2 separate regions of the Homo sapiens genome follow, and region 2 is linked to region 1. A link means that fine-mapping ties the variant in region 1 to the expression of a gene that starts in the linked region. Tissue or cell type: whole blood. Region 1 holds a variant in brackets; the other region holds the start of a gene. All regions are shown on one strand. Distances are between the middles of the regions.

Region 1 (8,000 bases):
CCATGCTAAATATTCAGCTTTCCTCCTGTGGGCATCCTATACTCTGTGAATTGGTCAGAACCAATCTTTAATCCAGCATCCTATCAGGCACACCTCCCTCCTGCTGCTGTGTGCCTGAAGAATGCAGAGTGATTTAGATATTCATTGACCTAAAGTGCAACTAAGGTTTGAGGGTGGGGGACACAAAAGGGAGGTTAATACAAGGCATCAAAAATGTACTTTGACTATTTTCTCCTTTTTTTTTTGAGCCTGTCGCCCAGGCTGGAGTGCAGTGGCGTGATCTCGGCTCACTGCAACCTCTGCCTCCCAGGTTCAAGCGATTCTCCTGCCTCAGCCTCCTGAGTAGCTGGGACTACAGGCGCCCACCACCACAGCCGGCTAATTTTTGTATTTCTGGTAAAGATGGGGTTTCACCATATTGGCCAGGGTGGTCTCGAACTCCTGATCTTGTGATCCGCCCGCCTGGGCCTCCTAAAGTGCTGGGATTACAGGCGTGAGCCACCACGCCCGGCCGACTATTTTCTCTTATTTCAAAATTACATATTCTTATACACTATGGAACTTGGAAAATAAGGGAAAGCATAAAGAAAATTTAAATCACCCATAATTTCACAAACCAGAGATGAAACCACTGCTAACAGTTGCTGTAATTTCTTCCAGTCTCTTTTCTACAGTGAGATCTGTATTTCTAGCTGGCTACACATAGTATAAATCTAGGTTTAGAATCAAGTAGAAATAGCTCTAGAGTGCTGCCGATGCTGCCATTGGCTCTGATAGTGGATCTCATTTATCCCTGGGTCCAGGTGAGAGGTCCTGAGGACCCAAATCATGGGACAACAGAGAGAAAAAGAGAAGAGGTGACATGCCTAGGGGCGGCCCGGCTGAGTTTGGAAGCCGCAAGGTGAACTCCCTCCCATGGGAGAAAGCTGCCATGGGAGGCGGCAGCCCAGCAGTCTGCCTCTCAGCCCACGATCGCCCACGTCCCCAGCATGTCCCCAGCGTGGCAGCTGCAGGCACGGCAGGCTTTGTGGGGCCTTTGATCCACGCAAAGTACGTCATAGGCGAATGCTCACAGCGCGTGGGCTGGGCACACCAAGGGTTGCCAAACTGACAAACACACCTCCAGGAAAGCCTTTTGGCTCTGGCTGGGCTTCATTCTGGCTGCCTGGACAGCATGGCCTGAATAGGAAACTTGCAAATGTGTGTGCCCTGTCCCCCTGGTGTCTCCCAGCCCAGACTCAGGAGTAACTCAGAGATAACTCCCCGAGAGTTGAACAATGAGAACACATGGACACAGGGCGGGGAACATCACACACCAGGGCCTGTCGGGGGGTCAGGGGGCTGGAGGAGGGATAGCATTAGGAGAATATCTAATGTAAATGACGACTTGATAGGTGCAGCAAACCAACATGGCACATGTATACCTATGTAACAAACCTGCACGTTGTTCACATCTAGAACTTAAAGTATAATTTTTAAAAAAAGAAGAAATAACTCGCCGAGGCCGTGGGAGTAGTTAGTAGTGGGGCATGGGGCCAGCTGAGAAGCTGGCTCTCCTTTCTGCACATTTTGGCACACAGGGCAGATTTTTCTGAAGCACAGGTATATTGCCCTTCAACATCTGAGACATACGGCTCTTGGTCATAATCTTATTTCTTTATTTTTATTTTTATTTTTTGAGACAGGGTCTCACTCTGTCACTCAGGCTGGAGTGTAGTGATGTGATCTTGGTTCACTGCAGCCTGGACCTCCTCGGGCTCAGGTGATCCTCCCACCTCAGCTTCCCGAGTAGCTGGGACTACAGGTGCGCACCACCACACCCAGATAATTTTTCTATTTTTTGTAGAGACGGGATTTCGCCATGTTGCCCAGGCTAGTCTCAAACCCCTGGGCTCAAGCCATCCTCCCACCTCAGCCTCCCAAAGTGCTGGGATTACAGGCGTGAGCCACCACACCTGGCCCATAATCTTATTTTTGTTCAAACTTTCAGAGGATTAGGGAGGGAGAGTAGAAAACACAGGAATGATGCCAGGAAACCTACCCTGGGTTCAGCCCCAAAGACAAGAATTCGGGGAAAACCTACCTGACTTGATCATTTATTCATTCATTAAACCCTTATGATTGCCCACTGCATGGTGGTTAGCTGGGGAGTGAAGAGTCAAAGAAGAATAAAACATATCCCAGGCTTTGTGGAATTCTCAATTTTTAACGGGGACAGACCTGTCACCAAATATTAGTGAAAAATGTGCCAAGAACTACAGAGCATCTGAAAAGTTAGAAATATTACCATAAACTTACTTTAAAACAGAACTTTAGCCACATTTTCAAATAATATGCTCATGTTTTTCTTCAACCTTCACACACCATTTCAGGAAGTATCTCTACATTTAAAGCGAGTCCAGTTGTTAATGTAAAAAAGGTACAAGAGGCCAGGGCACAGTGGCTCAAGCCTATAATCCCAGCACTTTGAGAGGCTAAGGCAGGCGGATGACCTGAAGTCAGGAGTTTGAGACAAGCCTGGCCAACATGGCAAAATCCTGTCTCTACTAAAAATACAAAAATTAGCCGGGTGTGGTGACGTGTGCCTGTAATCCCAGCTACTCAGGAGGCTGAGGCAGGAAAATCGCTTGAACCCGGGAGGTGGAGGTTGCAGTGGGCTGAGATCATGCCACTGCACTCCAGCCTGGGTGACAGAGCAAGACTTCATCTCAAAAAAAAAAAAAAAAAAAAAAGAGTTGTAAGGAAAAAGCCAGAGAAAGTAGTGTATTTCTTGAACCTTTAAAAAAAATTAACAATTGGACCCATTTCTTTACATTTAGAGGTACTTCACCTGAAAACATATCTAAAGGTTACAGAAAAACATATTGACTGTATTATTTGAAAATGTAACTAATATTCTGTTTAACAATAAATTCTCCCCATGATTTTTTTTTTTTTAAAATTTTTGAGACACAGTTTCACTCTGTCACCAAGGCTGGAGTGCAGTGGCTTGATCTCGGCTCACCGCAACCTCCCCCTCCCAGCTTCAAGCAATTCTTGTGCCTCAACCTCCCGAGTAGCTGGGATAACAGGCGCACGCCACAGTGCTCAGCTAACAGATTTTTTTTTTTTTGTATTTTTAGTAGAGACGGGGTTTCACCATGTTGGCCAGGCTGGTCTCGAACTCCTGGCCTCAAGTGATCCGCCTGCCTCAGCCTCCCAAAGTGCTGGGATTTACAGGCGTGAGCCATTGCTCCCAATTTCTCCATGATTCTTGACTTTTAGGTCACTCCATAGAACAGAAACAGATGCCCATTGTGAAGGTTCAGTGAGCCAAGATTGCACCACTGCACTCCAGCCTGGACAAGAGAGCAAGACCCTGTCTCAAAAAAAAAAAAAAAAAAAAAAAAAAGAAAGAAAGAAAGAAAGAAAAAAACAGATGCCCATCAAAAGGAAATGCATTTTGCTGAAAGTAGCGCAGTTTTCCCAGGGAAATAACATTTGAGCCGAGCCTTGAAAGATGAGTAAAAGTTCGTCAAGCTGAAAAATTTCATCGTAAGATGAGTCGAACACAGGGTCATTGTGAGCCGTTGGCTGGCCCCCGCAGAAACCTGGCAGCCCCTTTCAGGTGAACCTCCAGTCCATTCTTTATTCAGGCACCAGTAGGATGCTGTGCTGGGTGGCATTCCTGCCCCAGCAGGGGCTAGGCCTGAGTCACATGCAGGGCAGGGGCCTGGTCACAGCCTGGGGCCTCACCTGAGAAAGACCTGTGAGAAAACAT[C/T]CCAATCCCACTCATTCCTGCCCACACCAGGGCTAGGCACGTGGGGACAGCAGGGACGGTGAAGAGCATGTTTGGGAATGTGATGTTCTGTGGTGGCTTGTTAGGAAATCATAAGTAGCTTTCTCCTGATGACCAGCTTGAACACTGGATCGCTGAGCAGGGCACAGGTGGAAGGAATCAGAAATTACTGTATTAACACCAGTATTTTGGAGGCACAGAAACAAGGGGTGAAGCAACTTCCCTAAGGTCACGCACTTTAGGTGATAGCACTGGTGTAGGCTCCCATAAAAATGTTCTTTCAGGTCTCTTCGAACTCATAGGTTCTTGAAAATGTGAGGGGCGAAATTCCTTCATTTTATGGCATTAATGACCACTAATCAATCAATCATTCTCTCAATTATCTGAGCAATTATGTAATTACTGAGTCCTAGTGATGCCTACAACTGGGCTTCCTACAGTCCTGCAGTGGTAGAAACAAAGGAACTAGAAATCACGGTGTTTACCTTGGAGCAACCTACAATCTAGTTGCATAGGAAAGAACCCATTTGACACAATGAGAGTAACAAAAACAACGAATGCAGTTGACATTGGAATGGGCTGGAGCTTTGGGAGAAGGAATCCTTAGGGGAAGATGAAAGCTAAGAAAGGCTTGGAGACCATCAATGGAGAGGAAGGGAAAGGACAGTATCTGGATGGAGAGCTCTGGGCAATATTTAGGAAGACTCAAGAGCGCCTGCTCATGAACAGATGGACAGACAAGCGTGTGCTCCCTCCTGAACTCACAGACTTACTGGCTCACCTCACAGCAGGGCTCCCCTTCCAGGCTTTGCAGGTGATATGGTTCCTTCTCCATCCAGGATAACTCCAGTGAAGGATGGACAGAGGCAAGATTCTAGCTCCATTTTGGCTGCAATGTGTCCTTGTTCTTTTCTCCTTTGCTGGTCATTCTGGTCTGTTTGGGAATTGGACTCGTTGTCTCTGGTCAACTAACCTCTAACCCTGCCAGGGGGACTAAGCATGCTACAGAGCGCCCAGGTCCCCCACCTCCCACTTCCATATAGCCCTGAGCAAACCACTTAGAGTCTCTAAATGGCCCAGAGCAGCTTGTGGCTCCATTCCAGGAGCAAAAGCACCGCTGAGAATGTGCGGATGCAGCCTGAGACCCCCACCATGCCAGCTCCTAGCGCTAAAGCAGGCTGGTACCTCACACTGCTTTCAGAATCTTCTAAGACACTGTGGGTGTGAGGTCTTCCAGGCAGGCATCAGCACCCACCAAGCCGGTCCTCAGAAAACGACTGGAGGTAGAGAAAGCAGGGCTGGAAAGAGACAAAGAAATTCCAGGACTGTCCTCACTAGCATATTCTAAACGAAGCAGATCTTCAGGCAGCCGTGTTAGGTATGATGTCCCCGAGAGAGTACACATTAACATGACAAAGTTTGAGGAATGAACATAAGATGGCCATGCAATGTCAAAGTCATGGCTCACTTGGGTGCTTCTCTGACAGAAGAGATAGAGTGTGGCACCAGTAGTCCCTGTTGGGTTCTGTGTCTACAACAGAGAGCTTTGGGGCTGCCCTCCCTCACAGAGCAGGCTTTCTGCAAATGCTCAGGTAGGGCTGGATATATTCGTAGAATCTTCCAGACCCATCCAACCCAGAAGGTGGTGGTCCCCGAAGAGTGGTGGTGTACATGAGAAGCTGGGGGAACGTGTTACAAGGCAGACCCCTGGGCCGGCCTTCAGAGAGTCTCATTCACCTGCTCTGGAAACACTGCTAAGGACTTGGCCTCTGCTGTGAGCCAAGAGGAGGAAAGAAACCCCTCTCACTCTAGAACTACCTTTTTCTGCCTCAACCACCTTTTTTCCTGTCTTTTAAAAATTTCCAAAATTCTCTGCATCTGTAGTTTTTGTTAAGTACTTTGTCATGCCACCTGGTTAGCTCAAGCCAGAGACAATCAGGAAAAAGCTCTATCAGTGGCTGTCAACTCAGCCACTTCCCTCCGTACCGTGGTCCCTCATTCCTGCAGCTGGGTGGGAGCCAGCACAGCCCCAGGCACAGGCAGTGCCGGCATGTATTCTCGGAGCTCCACACAGGAATGTCCCACTCTAGAAGGGAAGATAAAATTTAGCGCTCTCCATGCACTGGGTATGTGTGCCAGGAAAGCCCTGAAACTTTTGCTCACAGGGCTCAAAATGAAAGCAGCTGTTGATTCCGAGAGTGGCAGGTTTGACGACATTTGGAGTCCCCCTATGTGAGAACGGAGAGACCCCTGGCGCTTCCTCCCTGCTATCTGAGGAAGGGGGAGGGGGCGGGGGGTGGGAAGGCCCAGCCTCTCAGGGTTGCGTCTCTCCGGGGCTTCCCAAGGAGGCAGCGCCGGCCCTCCCAGTCTTGCCACTGTCGCCGTGCTCGTGTGCCGGGCCAGCCGGAGCCAGGCCCGATCCTGGCCACTGTGCCCACCACCGAAGGCAGGCCCCAGGCCGGGTCCCTCTCCTTGCCTGTCTGGGGGACCCTGGTGTCGGGCTCCTTTGATATCTAAAAACCAGACCCTCGGCCCCCAGCGCCGGAGCCCGGCGCAGATCCACGCCCTGGTCTCTCAGCGCGGGGGCCTGGGGGCGGGTGCGGTTCGGGGACAAGGGACCGCAAGTGGGGGCGGGCGGCAGCGTGTGAGCAGCTCAGATGGGAGATCACGCGCGATAACCCGGGCCCTGGATGGCAGCGCTCGACAGGAAACCTCGAGCGAGGAGCCAGCTGGGGGCCGGCGGGGCGGGGCTGCTGCTCCCGTAACCGCACGGGAGCCGCGGCTGGCGGCAACACGGGGCTGGGAGCCCACCTTGGCTGCATGGTGAGGAAGGGCCGGAGGTTCCTTCCCAGGCCCAGCCTCCTCTCTGTCTTGCGGAGGGCGTCCTTCACGGGTGTGGTTTGTGACTTTGGGACGGCGGTCCCGGCCGCCTGGGCTTTGGGCGTAGTGGGAGAGCTGCCCAGCCCGCAGTGCACCCGGCGTAGCTTTGACCCGGGAGGGACCCGGCCCCAAGCCGGACGCGGGGAGGCCAGGGCGGAGAGGCGGCGTGAGCGCGGCTTAGCAGGCTGAAGCTCGTCTCTTTAAAATCCCAGCGAAATATTCACCTATAGCGTATCGGTGACGGTTTTAAAATCCAAGTGGCATTTCCTCTCCCAGCCTCCGAAAAACTCGGTGCAGTGGGCAGCGGCTCGGCGGGGCGTCCCCCTGTGCCTTGCGTCCGGGCGGGCGGCCCGCAGCGGGAGGAGCCCAGGCGCGGGCACCGAGGGGCGGAGGCCTGGCCCCGGCTCGGGGAGCTCCGGGAGGAGCTTGGGCTTGGGCTAGCCGATGGATGCACGGGTTTCTTCCGGGGAAGCTGCGGGGGCCACAGGGACTCTGAGGAGGCGCCCTCAACAGCCTGGGACCGGCAGGACGGATCCCAGAGCGAGGGCGACCAGCGAGCGAGGCAGGTGCGGCCCTCCTGGCTCCCCCTCCGCCCCTGTCCTCCCTTGCGTTGCCCAGGCAGCCTGAGCTCCCAAGGCCCAGAGGGTCTCCAGCTTACAGTTGCAGTGGGACTGATTCGGTGGATCGGAAAAGCGCTTTCATCTCACTCGGCTGCTGGTGAAAGCATCTCGTCCTTACAGCACTGGATAATAACAATAGTGATCATGCTATTTACCAGCAGTAGTTGGTTTTCTGTGTTCATATATAAATGTAACCATATTCACCAAATACCATTATCGTGAAAGTTCTGTATAGCTGAGGTCCTTCCAAACCCCGGCAAGTCATCACCAGAAATGTACTGAGCCAGGGCTGGGCGCAAAGCGCTTCGCTAAATGGGCCAGCCCCTGTTCCTCCACTTTCTGCCCTGCCAGAATCTTGCCGCACACACCTTCTTTGATGTAAGGGTTCATGTTATTTGTTTTTGTTTTGGTTGTTTAGTATTATAAATATTATATACTATCATAGTTAGAGTTCCAAACACCACAAAAAGGTGTAAGGTGGAAAATAAGTGAAATTCACCCAGCCTCCCCCTCCCGTGGCTCCTCTGCAGAAGTAACCGTGGATGACATTTTTGTGTGTGCGGCCCTCCAGATATACATATATTTTTAACGTGTTTTTTCTTGTAAAATAATATAACATTACTATTTTCATTTTTAAGTGTAATTCAGTGACATGAAGTAAGTACATTTACATTATTGTACAATCATCAGCACTATCCATTTCCAGAACATTTTCACCATCC
Region 2 (8,171 bases), 61 kb before region 1:
TTCTTGTGTTTGTTTTAGCATTATTTTTGTATTGAGATATAATTCATATAACATAAAATGTGTCATTTTAAAGTGCATACTTCAATGGTTTTTAGTATATTCACTCTGTTGCACACCATCACCACTGTCCAATTCTAGAACATGTTCATCATCTCAAAGGAACCCTCATAGCTATTGACAGTCCCAATTCCCCACTCTCCCCATCCCCTGGCAACTACTAACCTGCTTTCTATCTCTATGAATTTGTTTATTCTGGACATTTTATATAAATGGAATCATACACTATGTAACCTTTTGTGCCTGGCTTCTTCCGCTTAGCATAATGTTTTCAAGGGTCATCCCAGTTGCAGCATGTAACAGTGCTTCATTCTTTTTGATGGCTGAGTCATATTTCATTGTTTGGATACGGCGCATTTGCTTATCCATTCCTAGTTGTGGCCATTCGAATTGTTTCCAGTTTAGGGCCACTGTGAATAATGCTGCTATGAACATTCCTTTACAAGTTTTTGTGTGAGCCTAGGTTTCCGATTCTCTTGGGTATATATCTAGGAATAGAATTGCTGGGTCACATGATACTATGTTTAACTTTTTGAGGAACTGCCAAATTATTTTTCACAAGGGCTTCACCATTTATATAACCCACAAAAATGTATGAGAATTCCAGTTTCTCCACATCCTTATCAACACTTGTATTGTCTGTTTTCTTATTTTAGCTATCCTAGTGGGTGAGAAGTGGTATCTCACTGTCGTTTTGATTTGTATTTCCCTAATGACTAATGATGTTGTACATCTTTTCATGTGCTAATTGGCCATTTGTATGTCTTCTTTGGAGAAATGTCTATTTACATCTTTGGCCAATTTTTAATTGGGTTATGTTTTTTATTGTTGAGTCATAGGGGTTATTTATATATTCTGAATCCTAGACCCTTATCAGTATATTTACAAATGTTTTCTTTCATTCTGTGGGTTGGGTTGTCTTTTCACTTTCTTCGTTCTTTCTTTTGTCTTTCTTTGTCATCATATTTCATGATTTCTTGTGAACAAAGTATTGTCTAGAGGACAAGCATTGTAAGTATTAACATCGGAATCAGTGAAAACAATCAGTATAGATCAAGTTTTTAAGTGATACTTTCTCAGAAATGTATGTGTACAGGTCATTGAAGATTATCTATAAGCAATTGGTCTTGGAAAAGCATAATTTTTGAAGAACTCTCTTGCCCTGTGAGAGTGATCTAATATGAATGAATAAAATATATTTCTGTAGTTGAACTGAAAATAGGTACATCTCTGTTGTTGAATTCTAATAATTTTATTCTCTTTAAAAATTTACATAGAGTACAATTACCAGTGTTCTTTTGAACGTGCTATTTTCTCAAAATTCACATAGCTATCCCAATAACACTCTTAAAGACTTAAGCATAGTACTTTTATAAAGCCTCTTCTTTCAATATGTCTCCTAAAGTCCCCTTATAAAATGTCTTGTTTTAAAATAGCCGTCTTTGGAATACTTTATGATGCAGAGTTTTATTTATGTATGTTGGTTGTTTCAAGCCACTTCACGTAATGGTGATTCGATGATCAATGTGGCAAGAGTGAATATAAGACAATGTAAGTATGGACCACTAGTTATGTTGAAACTCAGACCCTCTGAGGATGCAAAAGAGAACCAGCAAGTATGCATCCTTCAAGCTGAGTAAAAGCTAAACAAACATACATCGGATAGAAACAAACAACAATAAAATCCTTATGGCTTTGTTGATCACTGTGGTGTTTAATTGACTCTATTTTAAGACTTTTCTACACTTAGCCCTCTCTCCCTACTCAAGGTGCAGCAAATCACTTTTTTGTTAATAATGCATGTCTGGATCTTATCTTGGCTGTGTCTGTATTGCAGTCAATGGTTCAAGTCCTCAAGGCCACTGCCAGCACCCTGGCACATGGGGGCCCTCTGCTGTCTTTGTTGTCCTGTTGACTGCTAAAGAACTCAGGCTAACAATGTTACTACCCACATTCATGAGTTACTTGTTGCTGGTTGTCATCTGTTGCCTTTCAAGTCTTTTCTGGAATCTAATTGTTTTTTGTTTGTTTGTTTGTTTTGTTTTGTTTTTGGTCTGGAACCCAGAAGACATTTATCTAATAAAATATTAGGTGATAATTTCCTAAGAATTTCAACAGATTTAAACATTTTGTCTTTAACATGGGTGAGTTAAAATCACTTACACTATACAAAAGTTAAGCATGTTTCCATCACCACTTTTCAGATAATAAAACCTCTTTCATTTCCGTGTCCATGGGGAACTATGCACCCTAAGGTCCTCCACACGTGGGAGGGGAGAATCTGTTCAGGAACTCTCTGAAGTCAGTATTCATCAAGAAATGGGTATTTGGGATGATCACACCACATGAGCATTTCTATGAAGCGGACATTTTCACTCCAGGCTTCAATGTCCTTGATTCAGTGAGAGAAAAGTCAAAGGCCTGAAGGTTTTCCTTGATCTTTTCAGGATTAAAGCTTTTAGGAATGACAACCACCCCTTGCTGGATGTTGAAACGCAAAATAACTTGAGCTGTGATCTTATTGCACCTTTTTAGAAGTGCATCCTTTAACGAAGGCAGAGAAGACATATTTGTCCAGGTTGGATTCCTAGTGGTCCCCAAAGGGCTATATGCAATCATGACAATGTCATGTTGTTGGCGAAATTTCAAAAGTTTTGGTTGGGTGTAATATGGGTGGCACTCAACCTCGTTGCTGACTGGCTTGGGTTTGAGTCCTGGGTTGTTCTGGATGAGCTCCAGCTGGCCTGCTGTTAAAACTGGATACTCCGAGGGATTTCACCAAGCCAGCATCTTTACAAGCTTCCGAAGTCTCCCAAGTGGCACACAGATTTGACTTGTGATATAACCATTTGCCATTCTCACCTATAGGGTAGATTTTGTCTTCTGGCTTAGCGGCCATGGGTATTTCAGTGATGTAAAGATCCACACAATCTAGCTGGAGGACCTTGAGCATCCTCTCTAGGCTCGGGCAGACCAGCTCTGGGTTGTGATTTGTAGCCCACAGTTTTCCACAGTAGAAGATATCCTTCCTCTGCACCTTTCCTTCTGCTATTTTCCCCCTGATGGCCTCCCCAGCTGTGTCTTCATTTTGGTATATGTAGGCTTCATCAGTGTGTCAGCACCCCAGACCAATGACAACCTTCACTGATGAAGACTCAGACTAAATGTAGAGACAGACTACTTGGGCTGTAGTGACATCTCTACCTACCACCTACTTGCTGTGTGGCCTTGAGTAAGTCATCGGCCCCCTTAGGGGTCAATTTAGGCTCTGAGTAGGTACCAAGTCTGATGATGGGAATGCTGTTTCCATCACTTAGAGGTATGCGGTGATTTGCAGGACTCACTTTCTTCATAGTGTCCTTTGATGCACAAAAACTTTTAATTGTGATGAAGTCCAATTTATCAATTTTATGTTGGATTGCTGTGACTTTGGATTATTGGCTATTCTTGTACATTAATTTTTTTCATATCAATTTTGGAATCAGCTTAACTTGTTCTAAAACTTTTTGTTGGTATTTTCAATGAAATAGATTGATTAATTAAGAGAGAATGGTGGTCTCCTTAAAAGAGAGCTTCCTATCAAAGAAGGGTATGCCTTTCCATTTACCCAAGTCCTTTCGGCGTTCTTCAGCAATGTTTTAAAGTTTGTTTCATATAGATATATTACAATTTTTAGACGAAGTTTATGTCTAGGTTTTAATGTTTTATTATTGTAAATTACTCTGGTGTTTAAATGTTGACAACTAACACAAGTGTTTAAAATACTATGTGAGCTACAGTATTTCACACAATGATCCAAATTCAGGCCAAGTTCAGATCTGCAACCTCAGATCTACTCCAGCTCTTTGCTTTATAGATAAGGAAGCTGAAGTCTAGAGATGTTGAGTGACTGACTCAACGCCACACAGCAAGTAGGTGGTAGGCAGAGATGTCACTAAAGCCCAAGGAATCTGTCTCTACATTTGTCCTGGACTCTAATCCAGGGTTCTGTCATTTTGCCAGCCACCATAAAATATTTGACAGTCTAGGAAAACAGCAAATGTTCTTACATCCATCGAGAACTTGTATTTGCCTAGAGATGGACTTTACCAATCAAGATAGGAATTAGATAAGAATTATTTTTTTTAAAAAAAGGAGCATTAAAACAATGGTCAAATGAGAGAAAAAGCAAAATTCAGACAGACAGATACATACACACACCCCAAACCCTCAAACCTCCAGGGCTTCCTGCCTGTGAACCGAAAGGGGGAGTGCGAATTTCTTGGCCCTGTCGGCAGGTGCTTTCTCAAAGGCCCCACAGTCCTCCACTTCCTGGGGAGGTAGCTGCAGAATAAAACCAGCAGAGACTCCTTTTCTCCTAACCGTCCCGGCCACCGCTGCCTCAGCCTCTGCCTCCCAGCCTCTTTCTGAGGGAAAGGACAAGATGAAGTGGAAGGCGCTTTTCACCGCGGCCATCCTGCAGGCACAGTTGCCGATTACAGGTAGGGCCGACGTGTCGACGGCAGGGAACTTCTAGAAACTCTTTGTGTATGTGTAGGGGAGTGGGTGTGGGTAGTGGAGGGTGGTGAGGGGCTGGGGTCTCCTTCAAATCCTGCCCTCCTCAAATCAATGGGCAAGTGAGCAGTGAGGGGTCCGGCCCGGTGCTGGCATCTGCTCCGTCACAGCCGAGTTGGGCATCAGTTCAGAGCCAGCTGCTAGAATACACAGCTCCTCCAGGTACAGATTTTTCGAGTGATAAGAGAGGAAGGAAGAAGGAAGCAAGAGAGCAACCGAGGCAGGCCCAGGGTAGAGAAACGGAGAGGGAGTGTTTCACAGAAGCTGGACAGGATCGGAAAATGTCAGCCAGGCCATGTTTCGTGCTGCGACGTTCTAGTCCCTTCAGCTTCTTTCACCCTCTGGCTGGCTCCGTCACTCAGCCCCTTTCTTTCTTCCTTTGCCAACAAAGAAGATTTTGTTGGTCAGTCAAGGTCATGGCCTGAAACACTCCAATGGGCCCGGGAGTAAGTGGGGTAACCAAGGAGGAGAGGGGCACAGGCAGGAAGCACCGGGTGGCAGCCTCCACAGCGCCTTCGCCACCTCATGGCCAAGCGTCCGTGTCTAGGCTCAGCCTTGTCATGGCTGTCCCCACACCCACGCCTGGGACTGCCGGGTGACGCACCATCCCAGGCTCCGTGACTCACCCCAGCCTGCCCCTTAGGCGGCCATCTAGCCCAGCCAGAGGGCCCGGCATTGACAGAACACGGGGCAGATGAGACGATGTGCCTGGTTAAGTCACCACCACGAGCAGCGCCCAGCCAACAAGAGTGCTTGCTCCTCACCTCATTCCCGATCGTGGGAGCCCAGCTTTGCTGCAAGCCTTTAGCTTCCACCATGTTTTCTAGCCCAGGTAATGAGGAAGAAAACCAGTGAAAAGAGGACAGGACAAACTGCTCAGGGGGATCAGCCTCGTGGCATCTTCCTGAGAAGTGGGGCAGGCTGAATTTCAATCTAAAGAAACAGGGAAGGTGAAGCAAGCAAATGTCCTCGGCCCACCTGATCGCTCCTGGTAACTCACCTGGGTGTGGGAATTTGTTTAGGGGCCCTGTTGGGAGGGCAGGAGAGGCCATGGGCACTTCTGCTCCCACCAGGGAGCCAGGCACAGCCCGGGCCAGCGCCTCGGGGGATTCTGAGGCCCGTGCAGCTGCAGGGGTTTCTGTCAGGTCACAGCTGTTTTCTCAGAAAAGCCTTGTGGGGTCTAAGTCACACACACAGTGTGGCAGAGTGAGGGTGCCTGAGCTTGCTCAGAGCAGCCCATCCTTGTGTGCTGGGGACAAGGGGACCCAGAACGCTGGAATTTAGTGACTTCAGGGGAGACAGCCAGGGGCAATAGCTCCAGCCTCTGAGCTTCAGGCTTGAGACACCACACCAGGGAGCTCATATAACCTTTCAGGGTCTTTACCTGCAGTTTCCTCACTGGTCCATTTGTGTTCGGCTTGGAGAGACCAAGGTAGGGGCAAAGTGAAGTTAGAAAGAAAAATGAAAGATTGTTGGGTGGCGGTGGCTGCCAAGCGTGGTAAACAGAACCCCACCCAGCAGACAAGATGGGGGCCGTGCCTCATTTCCACAAATAGGGGGCAGGAGGAGAAAACTGCACATTGGCTGGATTTTTTGCTTCTCAGTGCCACTTACTTTGCCTCTATGGAGACTGATATTTTAGCTATTTTAGATAAAGCTAATAGACAAAAGTGTTTCAAAATATCCTAGCCCAGAAACGAGGTACGGTAAGGCAAAGCGCGACTCAGAGAGGCCTTGACACCGAGGGCTGCGATGGTGCTTTTGCTGCCTGAGGGGACACCTCCACAGTCTCCCCGGAGGAAAGGCCGCACATAGAATTTCAGTCAGGTCTTCTCTCTTTTCTTGCTCAGTTAAGTGACCCATTGCATACATCCCTTTTAAAATGTCTACTTTTTACTAAGCTGTTGCATTTGCATTTCTTTGGAAATGCCCAGATTATTAGGATCAAAGCAAATGATGACCTGGTCTGTCCACATGAGGAGGCCTCCCTGAGAGAGAATCTACCAAGACAGTCACCAGGGCTTGAGGCCAGAAGATCCTAAGATGGCGTGCCTAGTGGCATGGGCACACTTGTGCCTGCAGAGCCCTCAGTGCCTCTAACTCCCTACTCTGCAGTAGCCAAGAATGCACCCAGCGGTCAGTGTGGTGTTTGTCTTTTATCAGTGAGGAGATGGAGCTCTGACATGCAGCCTTGGGGAATGCAAAGCTTCCAGGCTTGTGAGTGGCTCTGCTTTTAGGAAGGTGGCTGGACGTGGTAGAAAGAGCCAGGCTAATTTCAGGTGGTGTCCCAGTGCTGCCGCTTCCTAGCTGTGCAACCTTAGGCAAGTTACTTAACCTCTCTGGGCCTCAGTTTTCTCACCTCTAAAGAAAGACTTGTAATACCTTCTTTGCAGAGATGTGACAATGAGAAGTAATGTAATGTGTCCAATACATAGTAGACAGCCAATAAGTAAACATTGTATTTACTATTACTATTATTACATCTCGGACTGTCTTCTTGTTCTCAAAACAGGAGATGGAAACCCATGGCTGGGATTCTTCATTTGCTTTCAATATGTTATAAAGCAGCAGTGGGCATTTTCTCCATCTGTTGCAATCCAACTCATCCCTCTTCTGATTTCTGGGCACACCCATACCAGCACAGAAACATAACAATGATTGCAGAGGTAGGCCCGATAGTGAAAAAGCAGCAAAGCTCTGGCTGGTCATAGGATGACTGTTACATCCACCATTTTCATTTTTTAAAGATACTTACTCTGTAGGGGAATATTCTCCCGAAGTAAAAACATGTCTGAAAAAATATATGCAAGATGGGGGCTGTGCCCCATTTCCACAAATAGGGGGCAGGGGGATTGGCTGGATTTTTTTACTTCTCAGTGCCACTTACTTTGCCTCTGTGGAGACTGACATTTTAGCTATCTTAGATAAGGCTCATAGACAAAAGTTTTTCAAAGTATTACTTTGAAAGGAATCAGAAACAAAATCCACCCAGTCATCACTGGTCCGGGTGGCCACCTAGATTCTGAAGCCAAAGGGCTATTGTGGGTGCACAGCGACTGAGTATCTAAATGCAAACTTCTTGAACACTAAATCTTTGCTAAAATTGCTGGGAGGTGAATGTGAGGCAAGCTTTTAAGTGATACCAGTACAAATTTTTCATCAATGGCATTTTCACCATCAGATTGTTTCGCCCTCCAATCGCCTAGCTCTGCTCATCCAAATGAGCTATTTCATTTTTCAATTTTAGCGTTTCTCAGGCTTACTAGCCTAGAGATCACATCTGCTTCTGCTAAGCATCCCCCAGAAACGGTCCTGGGGAGCTCTGGCTTAGGTGAATAACCACTGCTGTATTTAATTTTAAATTCTTTGTATTTTTGCTTTTGTTCTTTAAAAAAATACATGTAATTATTGTTGGATATATACTTTTCCAGTCAAAAGTTACCCAGCATTGTGTCTTGTGCTTTACTTAGAAGGGTCCAGTTGCCCTGAGGGAACTCTCTTAGATTAGAGTTGTCCAAACACGCACTTTGGGAATCGTTTCTCCCAAGCCTTATTTATCT

The links. PIP is the estimated chance that this variant, and not a neighbour inherited with it, causes the effect.
Region 2: it holds the start of CD247, and the variant in region 1 is fine-mapped to the expression of CD247 in whole blood (INTERVAL, PIP 0.91).

Annotation. Positions count from the first base shown.
Region 1 is chr1:167,454,081-167,462,080 of GRCh38, reverse strand. All of the region lies in intron 1 of CD247 (CD247 molecule), which reads left to right. It overlaps LOC101928512 (a long non-coding RNA gene), which reads right to left and starts at 7,015. Exons shown (of 4, transcript XR_007066724.1): 1 at 6,883-7,015; 2 at 4,964-5,076; 3 at 4,560-4,712. RefSeq lists silencers at 6,192-6,421, 6,762-6,851, 6,942-7,031, 7,052-7,161. The variant C/T (reference allele first, on the strand shown) is at 3,761.
Region 2 is chr1:167,514,775-167,522,945 of GRCh38, reverse strand. CD247 (CD247 molecule) reads left to right here and starts at 4,417. Exons shown (of 8, transcript NM_198053.3): 1 at 4,417-4,538. The coding sequence starts at 4,481. It also overlaps the pseudogene AKR1D1P1. RefSeq lists enhancers at 4,586-5,785, 5,057-6,020.